4 linked regions of the Homo sapiens genome follow. The protein of the gene in region 1 interacts with the protein of each later gene in a biochemical or structural test. Each region holds a gene or a part of one and is shown on either strand. Other genes may lie near its edges.

What was found.
Region 2: the proteins of PPARG (region 1) and NR0B1 form a complex in vitro, tested with the Homo sapiens proteins (2 studies listed by BioGRID, with this or other methods).
Region 3: the proteins of PPARG (region 1) and NCOA4 form a complex in vitro, tested with the Homo sapiens proteins (2 studies listed by BioGRID, with this or other methods).
Region 4: the proteins of PPARG (region 1) and TRIM24 interact in a test that uses a peptide from one of them, tested with the Homo sapiens proteins (2 studies listed by BioGRID).

What each region holds. Positions count from the first base shown.
Region 1 is NC_000003.12:12,411,051-12,418,088, reverse strand, and holds part of PPARG (peroxisome proliferator-activated receptor gamma), read right to left. Parts: intron 1,386-7,038; coding exon 935-1,385; intron 1-934. UniProt on the Homo sapiens protein: Nuclear receptor that binds peroxisome proliferators such as hypolipidemic drugs and fatty acids.
Region 2 is NC_000023.11:30,303,679-30,306,401, reverse strand, and holds the end of NR0B1 (nuclear receptor subfamily 0 group B member 1), read left to right. Parts: intron 1-1,578; coding exon 1,579-1,823; 3' UTR 1,824-2,196; downstream 2,197-2,723. UniProt on the Homo sapiens protein: Nuclear receptor that lacks a DNA-binding domain and acts as a corepressor that inhibits the transcriptional activity of other nuclear receptors through heterodimeric interactions.
Region 3 is NC_000010.11:46,027,606-46,035,441, forward strand, and holds the start of NCOA4 (nuclear receptor coactivator 4), read right to left. Parts: upstream 3,019-7,836; 5' UTR 2,921-3,018; intron 1-2,920. Other genes in the region: MSMB (beta-microseminoprotein isoform a precursor), read right to left, coding at 5,817-5,946. UniProt on the Homo sapiens protein: Cargo receptor for the autophagic turnover of the iron-binding ferritin complex, playing a central role in iron homeostasis. Acts as an adapter for delivery of ferritin to lysosomes and autophagic degradation of ferritin, a process named ferritinophagy.
Region 4 is NC_000007.14:138,575,246-138,582,283, forward strand, and holds part of TRIM24 (transcription intermediary factor 1-alpha), read left to right. Parts: intron 1-1,127; coding exon 1,128-1,200; intron 1,201-2,174; coding exon 2,175-2,343; intron 2,344-3,958; coding exon 3,959-4,287; intron 4,288-5,316; coding exon 5,317-5,449; intron 5,450-6,451; coding exon 6,452-6,526; intron 6,527-7,038. UniProt on the Homo sapiens protein: Transcriptional coactivator that interacts with numerous nuclear receptors and coactivators and modulates the transcription of target genes.

The sequences.
Region 1 (7,038 bases):
AGGCTGAGGTGGGAGAATCACTTGAGCCCAACTGTAAAATGGCCACGTATTACTTTTATGAAGTAGCATGATCATAGCTTACTAACTGCAGTTAGAAGCTGCAGTGAGCTATGACTGTGCAACTGCACTTCAGTCTGGGTGACAGAGTGAGGCCCTGTCTCACAAAAAAAAAAAAAAAAAAAAAAAGGAAAAAAAAAAAAGAAAAAAAAAAGAAAAAAGTCACACTCAGAAGAAAATCTGGCTTTTGGAATTGGTTAGTCAGATCATGTACTACTTGCAGGGCCAAAAATACAACAAATTGCTAAATAACTAAATTTATTTCTATGTTGTGTGTTCGGTTCACATTGCATTCTTAATCACAACCAACTACCTCACAAAGGTACTTTAAGGGAAGCCATCAGAGGAATCCACACAAGAGAGTGGGTGGAGGTCAGTAGGTATTCCTTAATTCCTGATATCACAAAAGCAATTCAAAGTAGTATCTTACTGATGGTGGGGCAGGAGCATGATTTGACCAGAAATACTTAGTGGTCCCTTCTCTACATCAAGTGAGCATTGTCTTAAGCAAAGTTATACATGCCATTACTTACAGGAACCAAAGATTAGACTGGCCTCTAATCTTCCTTTCTGGAAGGAAAAGAAAGAGACAAAGAAAAGAAAAGAAAAAGAAAAAGGAGAAGAGGGCATTTGACTGGAAAAAATATATTGTTGAGGGATGAAAGAGAAGATCCTGGGTTACTTATAACCTTCACACCGCAAACCTATGACACTCTTTCTTGGTACAGTGTTTTGCACGTGTAGTGATGATTCATGGCATCATGCCACTGGCACTTAAAGTGACAATGCAGACTAACACTAAGGAAATCCAAAATTCTTTTGGCCACCCCACCATCATCCCACCCTCTTTCATAGAAGATCAAAAGACAAATCTTACCTCCACTGAGAATAATGACAGCAATAAATATTGCCAAGTCGCTGTCATCTAATTCCAGTGCATTGAACTTCACAGCAAACTCAAACTTGGGCTCCATAAAGTCACCAAAAGGCTTTCGCAGGCTCTTTAGAAACTCCCTTGTCATGAAGCCTTGGCCCTCGGATATGAGAACCCCATCTTTATTCATCAAGGAGGCCAGCATTGTGTAAATGATCTCGTGGACTCCATATTTGAGGAGAGTTACTTGGTCGTTCAAGTCAAGATTTACAAAACCAGGAATGCTTTTGGCATACTCTGTGATCTCCTGCACAGCCTCCACGGAGCGAAACTGGCAGCCCTGAAAGATGCGGATGGCCACCTCTTTGCTCTGCTCCTGCAGGGGGGTGATGTGTTTGAACTTGATTTTATCTTCTCCCATCATTAAGGAATTCATGTCATAGATAACGAATGGCTGCAAATAAAACAGGGAAAACGTGGATGACTTGGAGATTTCTAACTCACAGTGAATGCCATCCCAGGTTCAGAAAACTGTTTATGTAAACTTGCTTTGCTAACTAAAATCTTTAAAGCTGAAGATGCTTAATAATGAGAAAATACTCTCAAGTTCTTTTATTCATCTTAATTATCTTCTGGGACCAAACATATTTCACCAATTTTGGTCTTCTTTCCCTTCAATTTACACTGTAACACTTTACCTATGACTGGCTAAGAATCCTGATTTCTTTTGTTTGGGGAGTCTTCATTGTTGATTTTTATATTATTTGTTTGTTTGTTTTTGAGACAGAGTCTCACTCTGCGCCCAGACTGAATTACAGTGGCACAATCAGGGCTCACTGCAACCTCCACCTCCCAGGTTCAAGCAATTCTTGTGCCTCAGCCTCCTGGGTAGCTGGGATTACTGGCATGCACTGCCACACCCAGCTGATTTTTGTATTTTTAGTAGAGATGGGGTTTCACCATGTTGGCCAGGCTGGTCTTGAACTCCTGGCCTCAAGTGATCTGCCTGCCTTGGCCTCCCAAAGGGCTGGGATTACAGGCATGAGCCACCACACCCGGCCGATTGTTGATTTTTAAAATGATACAAAATCTACTGTTTATCTTGGCTTTCAATGAAATACACTTTTAACCTTCTTTCAATAAAAAACCATTTCAGCAACTCAGCGTTGAAAATACCCACTTGAACATAAAGTAACTACAGGTTTAAAAAAATTTTTTTTTCTTAAAATTTCTTTTTCCTTTTCCTTTGTTCTCCTTCACAGGTAATAACTTTTCCGTTTTAGATGAAATCCTCTCAGATCTCAAATGAAACTATGTGCACATAAAATATGCTTAACTATGAAAAATCACTCGGAAAGCAGATTACAGCTCTTGAACCAAGAAAATGTCTATTTCTTTTTTTAATGCTCTGGAAGCCATCTATTTCACAAAGAGCAGATATAGAAGGCCTACAGGTGAATGCTGCAAAAAAGCAATTTTGAATTTATATTTTAAAATATCTGTCCTTATAGGTCAAACAATCAATAAAATACATGCCCCAATTATTCAAGTTTGCAATAGGCTGCCTTCAAAAGTTAAGTCATTTGGTCATGACATTCTCTCTCTTTTACTTCCCTTGTATAGAACTAAGCAAGGTTTGTAGTCATTGAGAAATTCTCAAGGCTGTTCTGACTAAGGGGTAACATTTTACTTACACTGGATACACTGAATGACACATAAGGAGTTAAACCTTGAATCCTGTTCAAATACTTGTATACCTGAAAGCACTGGAAGAAGAGCTGAGGGTATGTGTGTTCCAGCTTTGGTTCTGTGGTGAGCCATGTGACTTAAGAAAAGTCATTTACCTTTCCTAGGCCTTAAATTTCTCAATCAGGGGTTTCCATCTCTTCTCCGGAGGAAATTCTAGTTGCATTTCTCAGAAGCAGGATGTGTGTGGGGAGTGGGCATATGTGTGGAGAGGTGTGAGTGTGCATGCACGACAAACATGAAGTCTCTGATGGACTAAAAGTAAAGATTGTTTTGAGCAGAGATGCTGACAATTCTCTCCTGAAAGGAGAGAAGGTGCATGAGTGGCCGTGGCAGCCGGCTTCAAGATGCACTGGTTGGAGATTCTATTCATATCTATGGAACTCTATGATTTTCATCAAAAGATTAAGTTTGTTCTAAACTGGAGGAAATAACACCAACATTGAGGAGTCTCAGATATTAAATATATTTCCAAACTTGTACGTCACATCAACACCCTTTACTGGAGTTATTCTGGAAGTTTTTACTTTTGTTACCAAAAAATTCACTTCAACTGTACTACTTAGCAAACTCCAAAAGAGGACAGATGTGAGGACCCCCAAACAGGTTTACTTGGTGGCTCTAATTTTTAAGGAAATTGGGACCAAACTGTCCTTACCGTATTTCTTAAACATTTTGCTTGGGTGGTTTCTTTCCTTTTTCTTTTTTTCTTTTCAGGATTAATATTATTAATGGGAGGAATACAAGGGGGGCAGAGCAAGTAACATCGATGAAAATTTACTGTATTTTTCCAGAACGTCAGGTTCTAATTATGAGAAAAATGTGAATGGATAATGATGCTTTCACAGAACCTAGAGAAAACGTGTTTCTTGTCCTCCAGGCATTTTACAGTGTATTATAATTTATATTAATGAAATATTTACTTTCTTTTTCTAAAAAAAAATTATTTCATTTTTTGAGATGAGGTCTTGCTATGTATGTTGCCTGGGCTGGTCTTGAACTCCTGGGCTCAAGTGATCGTCCTGCTTTGGCCTCCCTAAGTGCGTGCTAGGATTACAGGTGTGAGCCACCACAACTAGCCTTTATTGGCTTTCTTTCATGTCATGAGAAAATGATGATCTGGACACCTGAAAAGACCAACTGCACATGCAGGAGTACAAATAACATGAATATAAAATCATCACCTTTTCACATGTGGAAAGACTGTACCCAGAACTGCCCACTTCAACTTTCAGAGCTTCTGCTCAACCATTTGGCTTCTTGGCACAGAACATATGCATGAAATTCTTTCACCTCCATGTAAGTGATTTATCTGGAACTATGCCCTGATAAATCACCCTTGTCACTCTTCCCCTTTACTTCCCCTGTCCCCTCATATAAAGCTCCAGGTTCCTGTTTTTGAAACTCTGTAATAGTTGAACATAGGGCACAAAATCCTGCTAATTTTCTCTCCCAATTTAACAACAATGTGACTTTAACCCCTTGGCAATTGATGTTGGTCAGGATTTCCTGGCAGTAAATACTCAAGGACAGAGAGAGGAATCAGCACCCCACCATCATGCCAAACCATTTCATTTTTTTTTTTTTTTTTTTTTGAGATGGAGTTTTGCTCCTGTTGCCCAGGCTGGAGTGCAATGGCGCAATCTAGGCTCACTGCAACCTCCACCTCCTGGGTTCAAGTGATTCTCCTCAGCCTCCAGAGTAGCTGGGATTACAGGCACCCACCACCACGCCCGGCAATTTTTTTTAAATTTTTTTATTTTTTAGTATAGACGGGGTTTCACCATGTTGGCCAGGCTGGTCTTGAACTCCTGGCCTCAGGTGATCCACCCACCTCTGCCTCACAAAGTGATGGGATTACAGGCATGAGCCACCATGCCCGGCCCCATTCCAGCTTTTTCAATCCTTTCTGCATTCTGAAGAAGAGGTGAACTAGCAGAGAATTCTGGGTGTTGACATGCAAATGAACACCAGTTGTTTTATTTTTTCCCTAGTCATATCTGATTATACTGTTTTCACTGCATTTCCGAAGGCTGCATAGATTCTTTCAGCCTCCAGGTAGATCTGTCAAACTGCAAGAGTGATCCCTGGGTGGGCCTGGTCTGCCTTTCTTTGCAACCAATTCACCAATTCTTAGATAGCAGAGAGTTCACTTTCATATTTCACAGGGGACCTCCTTACCCTCAAACCTAGTGAGAAGATCGTGGCCAGCCTGCTTTATGGAGAGAGAACCTCTTAAAACCCTGGTCAAATTTGGTCTGCATTTTATCTTGAATCATTAATTTAACATGACATTTGGTACAATGTGGTACAATGTTCCATACAAAATGTACTGCACTTCCATGGCTGTTTTTTTGTATTTTTTACAAAGCAAAGTGGAGTCCTTACACTTTCCATCAGCTTGGACAGTATCATCCAAAGATTGCCATTATAGGAGCCGTATCATTCTCAAATTTTGTCTTAATGATTTTACACTTCTAGTTGGGGGCTAACAGTGTATTTATCTTCAGACCGTACATCAAAGGGCTGGGTAAGCGTCCCTCCTTAACAGGAAAGAAAGCTTAATTACAAATGGGACATGATGGGGTGAATTCAGGTTTTGTGGGGCATAAAATATACACAGTAGTGGAGTCTCTCTAAGGAAAATATTACAAATTATGAGAATAAAATTGCTTCGGCCCTTCCCCAAGCACTGGAAGGACTTCTGCACAAGGGAAGGGCCCCATGAAGCTTCATTAGCTTCATGGTGAATCTGTCACTGGTCATTGTGTGCTTGTGCTTTTCATATACTGGACAGACCAGAACGGAATGAAGAAAGCTGCACTTGAACCCAGTGTTTTTCCAGGAAAGCAAAATGATTTCTGTAAGGAGAAATCAATTTTTTGAGGGATACATCAAATATAATTAATTTTGATATATTTCAATTTTCAATATTTTGACATTTTGATTTTCAATTTTGACATATTTTGATTTTCAAAAATATATTTTGATTTTCAGGATGGGATTAAAAGTACTGTTTTATATAGATGAGTAAATTCAATTATAGATCTATGGCATGCTTCCTATGTAGAATACAAAGACAATGGGGGAAATGGGATTAATGATGAAAATAGAGTAATTAATTTTTTTTTTACCTTTTTGAATGGAGAAATAGAACAGTAGTGTTCCTGAGAAATCCAATAACATCAGCATTTTAACATGAGTTATGAAAGGTATTATACATGAATGCCCTAAGTTTACACTCCTTTTGAATAACAAAATAGCAAGCTACGGGAGATAAACATGAAAATCACTCAAAAAGCACAGGGTATTCTGGGTGACTTTTCTAATTTGGCAGATTGAATGAGTGTAGTCAACCCCTCTACCCTCTCTCAAACAATCACTTGAGGTAACCCTGTCAGAGTGAAAACTGGCTTGGAAAAATGTGTGCCTCATCGAGTGTGGCTTTCCTGATGTTCTTAGTTTTACCAGGGAAAGACACTGAATTCTTAGGGCTCATGTTCTTCATTTTGTTTCCTTCTTGCTTTTTACACATCTGACTTTCATCACCTTTGACACACCTGGTTCTCCTCGGTTAGCTACAATCCAAAACTCATTGGTTTGGTTTCCTCAGCCTCTCGTTGGTTTCTGCCCCTGTTGTTCCCGTTTCCCTCTTGTTGAGAACTATGAGATTTATAGGACATAAGGGGTCTTCAGAAGTAATCTGTCCCATCATTCTCTGACTAATGGATAAACGGAAGCCAGAGACATTCCAAAGTCAAAGTGCCATTTATAGCAAACCAGGAACTAGAACCTAAGCCCCGATTCTGGGTTGAGAACTTTTCCCTTTCCATTGCTTTCTATAGGACTTCCCCACTTCTTTTTTTCCTTTTAAAATGATTGTTCTAGGATGAACTGGAGATTTTAAACTAACGCTCTTAACATGCTGGGGTCTTGGGGCAGGGCCTTTTGAACCACTGTTTCCTAGAGGTGCTGGTGGAGTGCTGTGTGTGATAGAAGTGAAGTTTGAAAGCTGTCAAAGATATTCTGCTTTCCTGCAGGGTTTAGAGATTTACGACAAACAAATGAAAACTTAATATGAAGAATTATTCACATGCTAATGAACTAGCACATAACCACAGCTCTTAAAAAAATCAATTGCCAGCCAAAGAGTTACTCAGCAGGCAAACAAGGGTATTGGCCAACTGAGTCCAGCCATTGGAAAAAAAAAATCCAAGTGCTTTTCTTTTTAACTCTATAAAATATTATTTTTAACTTATTCTCTGAAAGAACACACTGGTTTAGATCTTTTACATCTTTAGCTATTCCTGACAGTCCTGGCAATAGAAGAATTTATTTTATTAATATTGATACATGGATGA
Region 2 (2,723 bases), on another chromosome or scaffold:
ACATTATATATATAGGTTCAAACTTAAGGAGATATAAAACTGTGGAGTCCATTTGCATTTTCTCTTCCCTGACCTTATTTTGAAGGCCAGTTTGTGTGTCTCTGTGTGGGGGGGAACCACTTGGGTGGGGAGAAGGTGGAGGGGTATATTGTGAACACAGAGAAAAGTAATGTGGCATACACAAGATGAAGTTTTCACAAGCCATGAATCTAGACCTAGAGAAGCTTCAGATTTCTGGTGGAGTTTCATGCAAGCCTCTTCCTACTTTCATCGATGGAATTCAAACACAACAAAATTGGGTCTTAAGCCTGGATCTCAAGCTGTAGATAGAAGGGGATGATAATGTGTGGACTAGAGTAATCAGAACTGGAATATGGATTAAAATGGTTGCTTTATTTTTGTTCTTATTTATGAGATTTGATATTCGCCCATAATAGGAGTGCCTCTCGCTTATTACCATTATTATTTTTTTAAAGAACACTGGTTCTGCTGCTCTGTGATGATTGGCATGGTGCTTTTAAAATACTTTTCTGTTGAATTTTTTAGGAAAAGGGAAGGAAAATGATTGCAATCATCATTAACATCATTTAAACCAAGTGGTCAACTGCTAATTACTTGAATACAAGTTAAAGAACTTTGCAACGATATTATCATCATGGAAGATCAAAGGACCTTCAAAAGCAGCCTCCTCTTATTACTTTCCTTATAAAAACTTACATCCACTTAAACTTTCCTGCATTTATTTCTTTCACTTTTACTTCGGTATCACACTATACTGCAAAAGGTCATGTGTTTTCTATTACAAAAGTTATTCTTGAATCATGGTACAATTCGTGATGTTTTCATGTTTACTTTTTAAACTTTTAATGACTATAAGAATTTTCAAAAACTTCTTACTTTAATATTTTTGAAAAGAGCCTTTTTGAACACTCATTAGAATCATTCTTTTATTTTTTTCAAAATCTTCCCCAATACAGAAATCATGGTGCAATGAGCTAAGTGGCCAGTGTTAGCTTTCAAATTATTCGGGCCTCTAGACTAATATTGGCCTGCAGGCAAATAGGTAAAATGAAACTGTGCGTCAAAGTTTGTGGCTGTGAAGTTTACCACCATTGGCTGAACGATCAGTGTAATGATGGAAAGTTCAAAGAAGAATGGTAAAAACATTTGTCTCATGGCAACACTTCTTGTTTATCATGGCTTGTTTCTCATAGGTAAAGTGCCCACCTCTTGAAATATCATGAACTTCTTCATATTTGCATAGAAAGTGAACTGGAGTGATGATTCATTAAACCGTATTCTACTGTCATATTAAATTGTGTGCGTTTGTTGGCTCATGGCCAGTGTATTTGCAAACGTGTGCATAGAAACATAGTAAATATTAAGTAAGATCACATGATGTTTCATTCTTGGACACGTTGCTTCTGAAAACGTAGACTGGTTTGGCCTTTTACCCTTTTAACCGGGAAGCTTTGGGTCTTGTTTAATTGGGATGAAACAGAAATGGCTATTTTTAAAAAGCTAGCAAAGGACTCTGTGGTGAGCTGTTTTATAACAAAGAGATTTTTCTCCCTCCAGACGTGCCGGGCCTGCAGTGCGTGAAGTACATTCAGGGACTCCAGTGGGGAACTCAGCAAATACTCAGTGAACACACCAGGATGACGCACCAAGGGCCCCATGACAGATTCATCGAACTTAATAGTACCCTTTTCCTGCTGAGATTCATCAATGCCAATGTCATTGCTGAACTGTTCTTCAGGCCCATCATCGGCACAGTCAGCATGGATGATATGATGCTGGAAATGCTCTGTACAAAGATATAAAGTCATGTGGGCCACACAAGTGCAGTAGTGCAGTTCACCATGAGGGAAGAATAAAGAGCTGTGGGCAAAAGAGTGTAAAATATTTTAAAATAAACTTTCTTAATATTTTTACATGCAGAGTATTTTTGTATTCAATTAAAGAAATAATTTTATTCCAGACAGTCACAAATTTCTCTGTTCCATAGTTAAAGAAGACATTTGCCAACAGGTAGCATAGCTCTGTACATCTTTTAAAAAAAAAATAGCAGGGTACTAGTATAATAAGCTATTTTCACAAGTGTAGCAATTTCATGGAACCTGCTCAAATCAAATTTGTACATATTGTTATAATAAATTTTAAGGTCTTAACTATTAACTTGATTGAAAAAAGCTTCAGCAGGGTTTAAGTAAGGCCTCAAAAACTATTAAAACCTAGCCAACATAAGCAAAAAGTATCTTTGGAAGTAACAACATGACATTGAATGTAATTATGTGCCAGTATCAGTGGGAGGTCACTTTGCTCTATCTTCATTTCCACTTCCCTCAGCTGTATGGAAGACTGCGTTTGCATCCAACTGGAGTCAAGAAGCAATCTGTAATTATAAAGACATGCAGAAGTGAAAGAGGAGATTTTCTGTTTTATTGGGGGATCTTTTTGGTACACAGTTATGGATTTAAAGATCCACAAGGAACATACATTCTATAATGAGGGGTTATAGTTCCAGAAAGCTCAACATCATTATAAAACCACTAATTACACTTCATCTTTTAGATACATTACGTTTGTAACTGGTATATTGAACAACATGGCATGAAATCATAAAGCAACTTTATTGTTATCTCCTGCTGCCCCTTTAATTATAATCCATAGAACTAATTTTTCTTTGTGTCCAGATAAAATCAAGGCTACTATATGTCTAT
Region 3 (7,836 bases), on another chromosome or scaffold:
AAAAATGCCATGGCCTTCTACAGTTCTTCCATGAAACTGAACTTAACCCAATGCATACATACTGGTTGGGTGGTCTGTTATCGACACTTTAGGCTTGCCTTTGCAACCTAACCAGTATGTGAACAGAGGCAGTGAATTCACTGCTGATTTCAGTACTGCTTGAGAAAGTGCTCTCTGAACCAGCAGCACATTCCACTGTATATCCTAAAGAGTGACAAATCTTCATTTTCTGAGGCTAGGTATACTTTCTTGGAAAGATCTGATGACTAATATATGTAAAGCACTTAAAATAGTGCCTGATGCACATTAAGAGCTATAGAAGTATTACCTATTTTTATTACTTTTAGTCAAAGAACAGGATATAACAAAGAAAGACATAAAGTTCATCAATTTCATTACCATCATCTCTCTCCAGGACTCTTGCAGAAACCTCATGACTGCTACCTACTCTTCCCCTCTACCCTTACTCTTCTCCTCCTGCTGCTCCTTTAGCTTAACAAGGATGCTTCTGCCTCAGGGCCCTTGCGCTTTCCTCCAGGTATCCTCGAGCCCAGGCCTTCACTTCCTTCAGGTGTCTGCTCAGAGGTCATCTTCTCATTGAGGCCATTCCTCACCATCTTTTATTTTTAAAAGTCTTGCCTCCAATCCCCCTTAATATGCTTTATTACTCTCCATAGTACTAACCACAGTCTGGCACGTAGCAACCATTTATTTTCTGATCTCCCTTCAGAAAACATACTAGAAGGTAAGTTCCACATGGCGGGGACTTTGTCTTTTTGTTCACTGTTGTATAGTAGGTGTTCAACAATTAATTACTGAGTAAATGAATTCAGTAAGTATTTACATCTAGTCTACTATGTGCCGAGCCTTTTTTTAAAAAACTCACTATCTCAATTAGCCCTCATTAAAGTGGCTATTATCATCACCATTAATTAAAAAAAAAAAAAAAGCAGACTTGACAAGGTTAAATATATTACCTACAGTCACAAACTCCCAAGTAGAAGAGCCAAGATTTAATCCCAGATCTGAGTCCAAAGTCCCTAACCACACCTGGTATGTTGAAGGAATCATTAAGTATTAAGGTATTATGTATTCATCCAACAACTATTTATTGAGTACCTAAACTGACACTACTGTGATAGTCCCTGAGAACACAATGGTGAGCTTGCCACCTAGAGGAGAACTCGTGTCATAGATTCACCAACCAAGCAGAAAATACTAATTCTTTGAAATAAGAGACTGAGTTCAAAGTCCATCAGCAGCAGCAATGACTGGCTCTGAATGCTAACACTATGTGAGGGAAAGTATTATAAAACACTAACTTAGGGACTCTCAACCGGGGGAGGGATATGTGTCAGGATATCCTATGGAGTTTTATGAAACCCCTACACCGGATCCTGAGATTCTGGCACAGCTATACTGATTTAATAAAAAAAAAAAAAAGGGGGGGGTGAGGGGTACTATGTAGTTCTAAAATATCTTCTCTCCCTTTGAGAAGGACATCTTCCTCCCCTTCCATAGCTCAACATGTTTTTCCATTTCCGAAATGCCTGTTTGCACAAAGGTAATAATGTAATTGTAGAGATTTATTTAGATAAAAACTACCACAAAACTTTCAAAGAGTAGGATTTTCCTTAGAGACCCAAGGACAAAGGCTCCCTGGAAGGCAGGAAAGGAGAAAATGAAAGGAACGTTATTGTGCTGGACTTTACATACATAATCTCATTTACTTATCTGAACAAATCTGCAAGCTAGCAAATCTTCAAATGAGAAAACCAAGTAAATTGCCTAAGCCACTGCATCCTTAGGGTAAGTCTTTCTCAAACGGTCTCAAGTACTTTAAAGTTTGGAAATGTCACACTAGGATCTCGGTATAAAAATGGGCCAACTATGACTTCCTGTGCCATCCTCATTCCAATAAGTAACTCAAGAGTCTCTATAAACTTAGTTCCAAATTACCAAGTGCGTGGTGGAAAGCTAAGTCCATCCAAAAGGCAATTACTGTGGTGAACCCGACCCTGATTAGAAAGTGACACAAAAAGGCACAGTTAAAAGTAAAAAAGCTCTGCCTTTGGGGTCAGATAAATTCAGCACTCTGACTTCTGTCATTCTACTTCTGCCATTCTTGATGGCATCATTCCATGTTAAATCCCGTGCCACGTAAGATTATGATTATTGTTTTCCCCACAACAAGAATTTAGTTCCATGAGAATTAGGTGTCCATTTTTTTCATTGCTATCCTCAACATCCTGAACATACAGGCACCAAATAAATGATTGCTGGTGGAATGAACCAATGAATGAGCAAGCCTTACTCTTCTCAGCTGTAAAACAGAGATAATCAAGCTACTTTTCGGGATTATTGGGAGAATTAAATGTGACAGTATGTGTTTGGCACACAGAGGGCCAAAAAAACCCAATATCTTCTTTGCATTTCCACCTGACAAGCTAGAAATGGATTATGTTCTGTGCCCGTCCGGCAAAACAGACCTCGCCTCGCCCCACATCCAAGCAAGAGGCGAGAGAAACAGGAAACTTGGAGCTGTCACACCTAAAGAGAGGGGAAGGCCGGCGGGGAGCAGGAGGTGTCCGAGCCGGGTGTGAGGAGGGTCGGGGAGGAAAGGACAGGCCCACGGCCGGGCACGAGGAGGGTCGGGGAGGAAAAGACAAGCCCGGGCCCGGCGTGTGGCGGGAAGGCGAGAACGTAGGCCCGGGCCCGGCGTGTGGCCGGAAGGGGAGAAGACAGGCCCGGGCCCGGCGGGCAGGCAGGAAGAGGTGCCCGGGCCTGGCGTGTGGAGGGGAGGGAAGGGAAGGAGAAGGCAGACCGGTCCCGGTGTCGGTCGGGTCGGGAAGGGGCGGACAAGCCCGGGCCCAGCGGGCCAGCGGTCATCGAGCCTCCACCCGGCCCACAGCGTTCTTACCAGGTCCGAGTGCCTCTCCAGGCGATCCGAGGAGACCTTGGGTGGACTGAGACACGGCCCCACACTAACCTACGGCCCAAAGGCAGAGTTCTCGCGACAACACAATCTTCCTCCCACACCTCTCGCCATACGTCTGACAGTCTCGCGAGATCTCCGCTCGGGTCAGCCAGAAGCCCTTGACTGCCCTCTAGGAGGCGCAGAGCGCAGGCGCACACTCCCTCCCCGCCCTTGCAGTGTCCTTTAGTCCTTCGTGAATAAATCGAAATTAAATGAAGCAAATGCTTTTTTGAAGGCAAATTTGGTGCCAAGGACCATCCTAAGTGATTCAGATGGCCTCACAAGGTAGATATTATTTAGTTTGAACATTCAGATGCAAAAATGAATATCGTAAGACACAAAAGGCCATATGTTGTATGATTCCACCTTTGCCACATTTGTTTTTCTAAGGATTGAGTTAATAGGCCGGGAGCAGTGGCTCACGCCTGTAATCCCAGCACGTTGGGGGCCGAGGCGGGCGAATCACGAGGTCGGAAGATGGAGAGCATCCTGGCTAACACGGTGAAACTCCTTCTCTACTAAAAATACAAAAAAATTAGCCAGGCGTGGTGGCTCGCGCGTATAGCCTCAGCTATTCGGGAGGCTGAGGCAGAACTGCCTGAACCTGGGAGGCAGAGGTTGCAGTGAGCCGAGATCGCTCCACTGCACTCCAGCCCGGGCGACAGAGCAAGACTCCGTCTCAAAAAAAAAAAAAAAAAAAATTGAGTAAATAAATAAATGGCAGAACCCAGATTCTTTTTTTCTTTTCTTTTTTCTTTGAGACAGGGTCTGACTCTGTCGCTCAGGCGCAGTGGCGCAATCTCGGCTTGCTGTAACCTCTGCCTCCTGTGTTCAAGCGATTCTCCTGCCTCAACCTGCTGAGTAGCTGGGATTACAGACATGCGCCATGATGCCCGGTTTTTAAATTTTTTTGTAGAGACAGGGTCTTGCTGTGTTACCCAGACTGGTCTCAAAGTCCTGGGCACAAGCGATCCTCCCACCTGATCTAGGATTACAAGCATGAGCCACCACGTCCAGCCTACAGCCCAGATTATAACCCACATTATTTACTTGTGACTAGATGTTAAATAGCACTTCTTTCTGTCTCAGTTTTGACAGAGGTCCTCCATACTCAGTTGCCAACTGCTTCCCCACATTCCGCAGCAAAGGAGGTGATCATAGCAGGGTTTTATGGATCTCATCCAAGAGTGACTCTGCTACAAGGGGCAAGGCAACCTCATTAGAAAACAATAGGAGACATAGATTACGATGCAGAAGCTAAGATAACAGTCATAGGCTGTGAGTGGAAGGGGAGCTGTGGAGAGAGAAGCCCACAAAAGTCCCATGAGGAAGTCAGCCTAGAACATGACCTCAGGCAGAAGGAGCCCTTAACTCTCCTGTCCCCCATTCCCTCTCAATTCAGATGCAGCCCCTGGAATGAGACTTTGTGTAACTCAAAATGTAACTCAGACCACTTTTTTAAATTATCTGAAGGTGAACAAGAAAGCTAAGGGACCTGTCTAGATTGCTCAACTGGCCCACATAGCATGTTTAAACAGATAGGGGACAGGGGAAAATAAAGCTCTTTATCAGTTGCCCACTGATTGTTCAACAGATGACTGTTTGCTCATTTCTGATCTGTCACGTACACACAGCTGAGTCCAAGCCCCAGGAGAACAGGGTTCTCTCCTGAAATCTCTCTGGTTCACTGCTGTATCCCCAGGTCTAGAGCACTGCCTGGCCCAGGTGCTCAGTACAGACCTGTTGAGTGAACAGATGTTCTTTAACACAGAAACAGTTAAAAGAGAATCAATGTTGTCGTTGTCTTAAGCCACTAAGTTTTCGGTGGTCTGTGTGTAGCAAGAGGTAGCTGATGCTGGGGCCTTGCACCCAGGCCACTCTCCATCTGCAAGGCAGAGCCCCTGGCCTTTAATTCCCCTCGGGCTGCATGTGGTCTTGGGGGCACTTTCTTCAGGCTTGTTCTAAGCTGTTTTACAGGCTTGTTCTAAGCTGTTTCTTGTTCTAAGCTGCTTTGACCTCAAGCAAACACAGAGGAATGTGGGGGACACATCATAGAAGACACTTCCTGATGAAGAGGAAGGAGGGATAAACAGGAACACCGTAAAGAAAAGAAGGGATCTAATTCCAGCTTGAAGACACACATTTTTTTCATCGTTCACCAGACAGCAGGACACGGGCAGCAGAGTGCAGACATCAGAAACAGTAAGAGTGGCAGTGGTCCCCTGAGTAAGGGATGCACAATGACCTATTATAGAGTTTAGGAAAAATAGAACTTTTATTCATATGTATTTTGTTTTGTTTTGTTTTGTTTGGGTTTGGGTTTGTTTGTTTGTTTGCTTGTTTTTTGAGACGGAGTCTCACTCTGTCACCCAGGCTGGAGTGCACTGATGTGATCTTGGCTCACTGCAACCTCCGCCTCCCGGGTTCAAGTGATTCTCCTGCCTCAGCCTCCCGAGTAGCTGGGACTACAGGTGCCTGCCACCACGCTAATTTTGTATTTCAGTGGAGACGGGGTTTCACTATGTTGGCCAGGCTGTTCTCGATCCCCTGACCTCAAATGATCCGCCTGCCTTGGCCTCCCAAAGTGCTGGGATTATAGGCATGAGCCACTGTGCCCGGCCATTCATATGTAGTTTTGTCTCCCTTTTTAAATGTTTTGTATTCTTTATAATGTGTATTAAATCAATGCATACATAAATTATAAATTAAAAGGACACACATATTCAAGTGTTTGCTCAAAAATCTTTTTACTGATAGGCATGGCTACACAATCATTGACTATTAGAGGCCAGAGGAGAATGAGGCCTGGCCTGGGAGCCCTGTGCCTACTAGAAGCACATTAGATTATCCATTCACTGACAGAACAGGTCTTTTTTGGGTCCTTCTTCTCCACCACGATATACTTGCAGTCCTCCTTCTTGAAGATTCTTTGGCAGTTGTCTTTGTCATAACCCACAGGTGTAGAAACACTGTCATTGAGACAAAACTGGGGCCTGTTAGAAGAGAAAGGACCCCGAGCACCCCCTCCCCAGTGCCAGCTCTGTTCAGGAAGTCACCCACACTCCAACTTAAGGGCACCCTTTGGCTGGCAGCCCCAGAGTGTGACCTCCAGGAACCTGGACCAGTCTGTACCATAGAGTCACACAGCTCACCCCTACATTCCATCCTGCAGGCACAGAAGGTCATCAGTAGGTGCTGACAGGCCCAGGGGCAAGTCTGGCTACTCTAGAAAGTGGCAGCTTGTTCCATGCTGGCTCCTCCCACCCTCCCTGTTCAGGAAGTGGCCAGCATATTGTTGCTAGAATGTGGAAAGGAAACAAATCCCAGCCCTGACTTGGAGGCCTGTTGGCAAAGGAGCTCTCTCAACCAACCAGAGCAATGAGTCACTCCAGGCCAGTGTCATGGAGCCCAGGGAGAAGCTGATGAAAGTCAGAGACCACCTCTAATTGAGCTGCAGTACATACAAATATTTTGAAGAGTTCTGATGAGATGAGATGATACTAATGCTAGAATATTTATGTATTATTACTATTATTACTTTAATTTTTTGAGATGAATTTCACTCTGTCACCCAGGATGGAGTGCAGTGGCACGATCTCAGCTCACTTCAGCCTCCGTCTCCCAGGTTTAAGCGATTCTCCTGCCTCAGCCTCTTGAGTAGCTGGGATTACAGGAGCACACCACTACACCCAGCTAATTTTTATATTTTTAGTAGAGATGGCGGGTCGGCGCGGGGGAGGTCTCACCATGTTGGCCAGGCAGGTCTCGAACTCCTGACCTCAAATGATCCACCCACCTTGTCCTCCCAAAGTGCTGGGATTACAGGCGTGAGACACCATGCCCAGCCCAGTGCTAGAATATTAAGTGGAAAAATCAGCCCACAAAACTGTGATATAAAATTTGATATCCACTATGTAAAAGAAAAAACATATAGAAAAGAGACATAAAGAAATGATGATAGGGCCGGGCGCTGTGTCTCACGCCTGTAATCCCAGCACCTTGGGAGGCCGAGGCGGGCGGATCACGAGGTCAGGAGATCGAGACCATCCTGGCTAAACCGGTGAAACCCCGTCTCCACTAAAAATACAAAAAATTAGCCGGGCGTGGTTGCAGGCGCCTGTAGTCCCAGCTACTCAGGAGGCTGAGACAGGAGAATGGCGTGAACCCAGGAGGCGGAGCTTGCAGTGAGCAGAGATCACACCACTGCACTCCATCCTGGGCGACAGAGCAAGATTCCATCTCAAAAAAAAAAAAAAGAAAATAAATGATGATAGAAGCCCAGGCATGGTGGCACATGCCTGTAATCCCAGCTACTTGGGGCTGAGGTGAGACAACAGCTTGATCCCAGGAGTTTGAGACCAGCTTGGGCAACATAGTGAGACCCTGTCTTAATTTTTTTAATACAAATAAATAAATAAATAAAAATAGAATGTTAATAGTTATTACCTTTACACAGTTGGGATTATGAGTAGGTATTTCTTCTTTTTTCTCTTATGCTTCCCAATGATTCTATAATTCATATGTTTACTTAGAAAATTGGGAAATATCATTTAAAACCTTTCATGTTTTTCATGTTTAAAGGTGATTGCTGGCTGGTAGGAATGTAAAATGGTGCAGCTGCTGTGGAAAACAGCTTGGCAGCTCCTCAATAAGTTAAACAAAAAATTACCATATGACCCAGAAAGCTACTCCTGGGTATATATCCCAAAAGAATTGAAAGCAGGGACTCAAACATTATATGCCAATGTTTGTATATTGACAAACACTGTATGCCAATGTTCAGAACAACATTACTTACTTTATCCAACAGGCAGAAGCAACTCAAGTGTTCAACAAATAAATGGATAAGCAAAATGTGG
Region 4 (7,038 bases), on another chromosome or scaffold:
TCAACTATTCTAAAATGAAGCATGTATTCTTATATTATCAGGAGATTATAAATAGCCATTGTTTTGATTGATTTTGAGGCAGGGTCTCACTCTGTTGCCCAGGGTGTAGCAATCATGGTTCACTGCAGCCTCATACGCTTGGGCTCTAGTGATCCTCCTGCTTTAGCCTTCCCAGTAGTGGGGACTACAGGTAGGTGCCACCAGGCCTGGCTAATTTTTTTTTTTTTTTTTTTGGTTAGAGACGGGTCTTTGTTGTCCAGGCCTTTTATTTTTAAATTAAATTCTCCAGAGTTTACAAACCAATGAAATGATAATCTTCATTTTATCAGCCACATCCTGTTGTTCATCAAACCTTTTAGAACTTCTGTCAATTCGGAATTTTTTTTCTACTTCCCACTTTCATTGTATTCCTACTTGTTACTGTTTAGTTTGGGCCTTCATCAGTTCAAATCAATTATTTGCAACAGTTTTCCTTCTTTCTTGGCTGCTTTTAATTAGATCTTCCTTGTTCCAGTCTACACTACCACCAGAGCATAGCTTCTTAATCTTTTTAGGGCAGTAGTCCAGAATCCCTCTTTTGTTTATTGCCTTAAGTCTGAACCCATTGATCTTTCTGTGTCTTCCATTAGTTGGTTTAATTTTGTTTACTTGGTTTTCTTTTTTGAACTCCTTTTCTATCAGCCCGTACCACCTTTCGTTGTCTTCTGTAGCTTCCACTGGCACTAGGGTCTCACTGAGATCTTACCCCTGTTACTCTAACACAGAAAGACTTGGCAATGTTTGGAGATGTTTTTGATTGTCACACCCCAAGCTGGGAAGTATAGAGAGATGCCACTGGTATCTAATAATTGGTGGAGGCCAGGGATGTTGCTAAACATCCTGAAATGCAGAGACATTCCTCCACAACAAGGAATTATCTGGCCCAAAAGTCAATAGTGCAGAGGCTGAAAAACCCTGCCGGTGTAACAGGCTGTAACAGACTGCTGAAAATTCAGCAACTACTTACTGTTTCATAGAATTTCATCATGGTTCCCAGTTTCAATGTAGTGCTAAGTGAACACATTCAACAGGACTTCAATGCATAATTATTCATTCGTTTTATGAATGTATGGTTTCCCCCTCCTCAGGACCTGTTACTATGACTAGTGTACACCCCCCAATACGTTCACCTAGTGCCTCCAGCGTTGGAAGCCGAGGAAGGTAAACTGACTAAACCATATTTTCTAGTATATAAAAATCTCTAATTAGATTTCTTTTGCCAGTGTTCAACATGTTTTGATACTCAATATATTTTGAACAATTTCCTTTATTTTTAATTAAAATTTTAATAACTACTATATATTTTAATGAATTAGTTAAGGGATTAACAAAAGTACAAATTTACCTTTGAAGATAGAAGAATATTTGTCAATATGTTGAAAATAAGAAATGTTGGATATTCATATAATAGCAAAGAAAACATAAAAATGAATAGGCATAACACAGTACACTATATAGAAACACAAATTTAGAGAAAAGATAAAATTTTATGCTAATTTGATCTCTAATGACTAAATGTTGATTCTACTTTAAAATAAATATACAGTTATTGAAATTCTATATTTTAAGCAACTGCTCTCCTCTTCCCTGCATTATGCCTGAAAATTCCTCCTAGCTAGTGAACCCAGTTCTTACTTTATCATATGGAAGAATTGTCTGAGGGAGAAAAGTTTGCCTTTAATCCCATGAGAACATAGTGAATCTCTGTAAAAGCTTTTTGACCCACTACCTTCTTTAAATAGTATTGTGTAAATACATGATTATTTCATTGTCTTCACCAAAGTATTCACTTTGCTACTGACTAGAGAAGGAAATGAGAAAGCCTAAAATCAGATGCCAGTTCTAAGATACTAAATCTGGTTGCCTAATTGTAAAGCCTCAGGTTTTTAAAAGTTTAGGTTTATTGAAACATCTTTCTAGATATATAACTATTTAGATAGGTTAATATGTAAAACATTTTTATCATAAATGAAACTTGCATACACCAGTTTCATTTGTTATGCATCATTAATTGCTGATGTTAACATACTTATTGTTGTGAAGATACAGTATTTTAGAAAGTTGTTGTTATACTTTTTATGAGGTATTTAGCTTAACATTCTTAGATTGCTTTTTCTTCTCTCTCATACTTACAGCTCTGGCTCTTCCAGCAAACCAGCAGGAGCTGACTCTACACACAAAGTCCCAGTGGTCATGCTGGAGCCAATTCGAATAAAACAAGAAAACAGTGGACCACCGGAAAATTATGATTTCCCTGTTGTTATAGTGAAGCAAGAATCAGATGAAGAATCTAGGCCTCAAAATGTAATTATGAATGCTTGCAATGCTATTCCTATGCATGGTGGGTAGGGTGAGAGAATCTTTTAAATAGCTCTTAGGAGTTTTTTTTTAATGTTATATTTAAAAGGATTTAAAGACAATTTGAGGGAATCTCTCAGTAAATTAAACAAAAAGACAAAGATGGAAAAACAGGAAAGTTTTTAAAAATCAGAGGCTCAGATATGGAGGCTGGGCAGTTAAAAGGAGATATTCTTTCTTTAATCAGAGTTTTATACCCAGGCAAATTATCAATCAGATTGACTTGAAGATTAACTAAACATTTTCGTGCAAGTTCTCAAAATAATTCTTATGTACTCATTCTCAGGAAGATACTTGATAATATGAATCATCAAAAATATAGTAAAACAAGAAAGAAGACATAAGATTCCAAAAATGGAATCTGACACAGAAGAAAAAGGCAACCCCCAGTACAGCAGCAGCAGCAGCTTGTGCAGTAGTCTGTAGCAGGAAGACATAGGACTCCCAAGGGAGAAAAATGCTTCAACAGTATTGAGAATCTCCTGTTGGAGATTGTGAGAATAACATAGAAATAGGTACCTAGAAAGATAAGCAACTGAAAATATAAGGTAATTACAGAGTCTTAGTAAAAACAAAAAGTTGTACAAAAAATGTCTTAGTACATTTTGTGGGTCTGCAGTGAACAATATTTAAATAATAATAATAATGATGTAAACAAACACCTGAGTACGAATGTAACTAAAAACTGTGATGCAATCAGGATATAACCTGAATATGCACTTAACCAAAAATTGTGATTTTCAGAATACTTAACCAGTACAAGACAAATACTGATCAGTTAGAATAGATACTGGCAATAAACAGTTATACCAGTACCTACCAACTAAAACAATCAATGCTTAATCAAAACTAAGTTAAAGGGATGGGGTGAATGGTGGTGGTGGTGGTTTTGTGTGTGTGTGTGTGTGTGTGTGTGTGTGTGCGCGCACGCACGAATGGAAGCAGGACGGGGTTGGAGAATCAGAATGTAAAAACCTAATCTCCTGATCTTCACTAGTAAGGATTATAGATGTATTGCAATTTTTAACAATCATTTTATTTAGAAATATGGAGGTAAACAGCAGAAGAAAAAGCTAGGTTTGAAAATAGTTCTTCCAAGGAATAAGTGCTTTTAACTATATCTACATTTATTACTTTGAAATTTTTGAAAACATTTGAAGGAGATTGTTTTTGTTATTGATTTGAAATTTTCACCATCCTGGGCTTCAACAGAAAGTTTAGATTCATCTTATAATTTTTGTATCTTAGGTATAATTTGAATGAACAGCTCCAGTGAGGTATATATATATATATATAGGTCATGTGGTTGACTTCCACTCTACCCAACCCATTCTCTAATTTCTGTAGCCATCCCCAGACTTAGATTTTTTCTCTATTTATTTTGGTATTTTTTAGTAGAGGTTCATGTCTTCTAAGCCAGTTAGCAATAAACATATACCCTTCTCCTGAAGATTCCTTTGAAGCAGCCAGGTGCTCACCAGAGAGTGGTCTACAGTTCAGAATTGCATTAGTGATAAAATTTTTTTTAAAGCCAGTTAAATATATTTTTTTTCTACTACAGGCCAATTATCCAAGAAGCATACTCACCTCCCTGCTCTTAAATAGCAGTCAGAGCTCTACTTCTGAGGAGACTGTGCTAAGATCAGATGCCCCTGATAGTACAGGAGATCAACCTGGACTTCACCAGGACAATTCCTCAAATGGAAAGTCTGAATGGTTGGATCCTTCCCAGAAGTCACCTCTTCATGTTGGAGAGACAAGGAAAGAGGATGACCCCAATGAGGACTGGTGTGCAGTTTGTCAAAACGGAGGGGAACTCCTCTGCTGTGAAAAGTGCCCCAAAGTATTCCATCTTTCTTGTCATGTGCCCACATTGACAAATTTTCCAAGGTAAGATAGTACTTCCCTTCCCACATTCTTTTACTGTAAACTTTTGAAGATTATTTTAACAGAAAGCCTTTGAAAAAACTTAAATGAAATTCCACTTGGCACAAGTGTATACTCCAAAATCCCAATGAATAGTCTAGGTTTTCCCATACCCTTCCGCTTATTCTTTGTGCTTCTTTCAAAAAACTAATCATTCAGCCTGAGCAACACAGGGAGACCCTGTCTGTCTGTACAAAATAAAAAATTAGCCGGGTATGGTAGTGCATGCCTGTAGTCCCAGCTACTCAGGAGGCTGAGGTGGGAGGATTGGTTGAGCCTGAGAGGTCAAGGCTGCAGTAAGCTGTGCTTGCACCACTGCACCCCAGACTGGGCAACAGAGCAAGACCCTCTCCCTAGTCATTACAAAAAGAAAAAAAAATAACAGGCCCTTTAAATTATCACAAGGGATCATCATAAGGAACAATGTCCCTATGCATAACAGCTACCACAGTTTATTATGTCTTTTTGCCAGGCATCGAACTGTATCTTTTACAAGTATTTCAAGTAAATTCTCATACCCTATGGGGATGATGATCATCATCATGACCAAGATGGTTAAGAGCCATTGGGTTGATCTCTCAGTTCTTGGAAGGCCATACTTTTGAAAATTTAATTTTATAAACTTAAGAGTAACAAGAATAGTACAAAGAGCTTTTCTAGTTCCTGAATCCTTTGGAGGAAAAAAATTCAATTATGCCCTAGATATGTGAGCCCTAGATTAAATTTGTTTAGGTGTTTCTTTTTTTTCAATATATGTATCTCACACCTTCTTAACTAGATTTTGATGTTTGTTAGGCCCTTGCATTATATTTCTGCTGTTTCCTCTCAGCATGGTGCAGTATACCTAGTGGTATGTGGTAAATGCTCAGTGATTAAAATTCATGCCAAATGAACAATTCTGTATCATAGATGTCATGGAGGAGGTGGGAAAGGGAAATAGTGAAGAGAGGAAATGATGCATTAGGAATTCAAAAGTACATTGTCCCCTAACAGTGGAGAGTGGATTTGCACTTTCTGCCGAGACTTATCTAAACCAGAAGTTGAATATGATTGTGATGCTCCCAGTCACAACTCAGAAAAAAAGAAAACTGAAGGCCTTGTTAAGTTAACACCTATAGATAAAAGGGTAAGTCTTTGGTAAGATGCATTATTGTATTGTAGTGCAATATTGTACTGTGGTACCTTTTGTCAAAGAGGTGTATATCCATCCAGATTTTATACTGATCCTTTTTATTTAAGAGTATTTTTTTTTGTTTACAAAGGTACATGAATCTTAAAGACTGTAACTTTCTTTAAATTAAAAAAATCACAGAATTAATGCATGTATTTTATAGAAGCTTATTGTACCTGAACAAGATGGAATATGTACCCTAGACTTTTAATCTACCTTAAGTAAATTTCTATTTTGTTTTATTTCCTACTATAGATAAGATTTTTCCTTAGAACTGCCACCAAGGAGCTGGGTTTTTTCTTTACTCTTCCTGGAAATAATTCCTTTTTTTTCACTGAATGGGACTAGACTTATGCATCAAAGCCAACTGATATATTTAACTGTAAATAACATTTAAAGCTACCAAGTCAACACTTTGTTACCAAAAAAACTCCTTTGCTAAATTATTAAGTAGAACAGTCAATATGAAAGTTGTCATGCAAGAGGGGACGTGCCCATTCACTGCCAGTACTACTCAGTGGTTACTGGGATAAACCCATAAAGCAGGGAAGTATATGAATAGCAGAGCACATGGTTGGACCTTCGGCATGCAGAAAGGTGCCTTAGGTCTGGATGCATATTGAGAAGGTCCACCTCCAGTTCTCCTAAGAGACGTACGTTCTTCCTTTATAGACTATTACTAATTTATAATACACAGACTGGAGCAATAAGTGCAAATTTATTGTTAGAAAACTTCAAATGGTTTTCTAGTGATTGTCTTAGTTCATTCAATTACAGGGCCTGTTCCCAAATATTGGGAAGGAGAGCAAAACTCCGAGAATCAGTAATTTTTTTGTATTCATCTGGGTTTTAATTTTTAGTCTGACACTTTGGGACCTCTGAGATTGTTATTTAAAATAAGCTGTGAATTCATTGTTTTATAATATTTTATCTCAGTTTTTATTTATTTTTGCTTAGAAGTGTGAGCGCCTACTTTTATTTCTTTACTGCCATGAAATGAGCCTGGCTTTTCAAGACCCTGTTCCTCTAACTGTAAGTATTAATGTCATTTTCTGCATGTTTACACAGTGGAATGCTTTTCTGGAATTTTATGAGAATCTAGCTTATATTACCATTTTTCAGTACTTTTTAATATCTAAACCTTAAATCTTAATAATACATACTGAATGCTTTGATCCTATGTAGGTACATTTTAGTAAGTGGCCCAAAACTTCTGTTCATTTCTCAGGTATTCTTTCTTCTTTCTTTTCTCATCTATTTTACTTACCACTGGGATGTTTAGGGTGATTTCTGTTAATTTTCTGTATTTCAGGAGTTTTAGGCATGTTTCCGAAGCTGTTGGAAAAAAAACTTTGAAATAAAGACATCTCTCCCTGCTACATTTTCCGTACTTATTTTTCTTTATAGGTCCAGACTTCAAGTAAATAAGTAGACGTTACCAATACAAAAAAAGTTGAGGAAGTATGTGCGCAGGTGCTATTGACTTCAGAAAGGTTCATATTGAAAGTTTGATGTGACTGTGGCCGGGCGCGGTGGCTCACGCC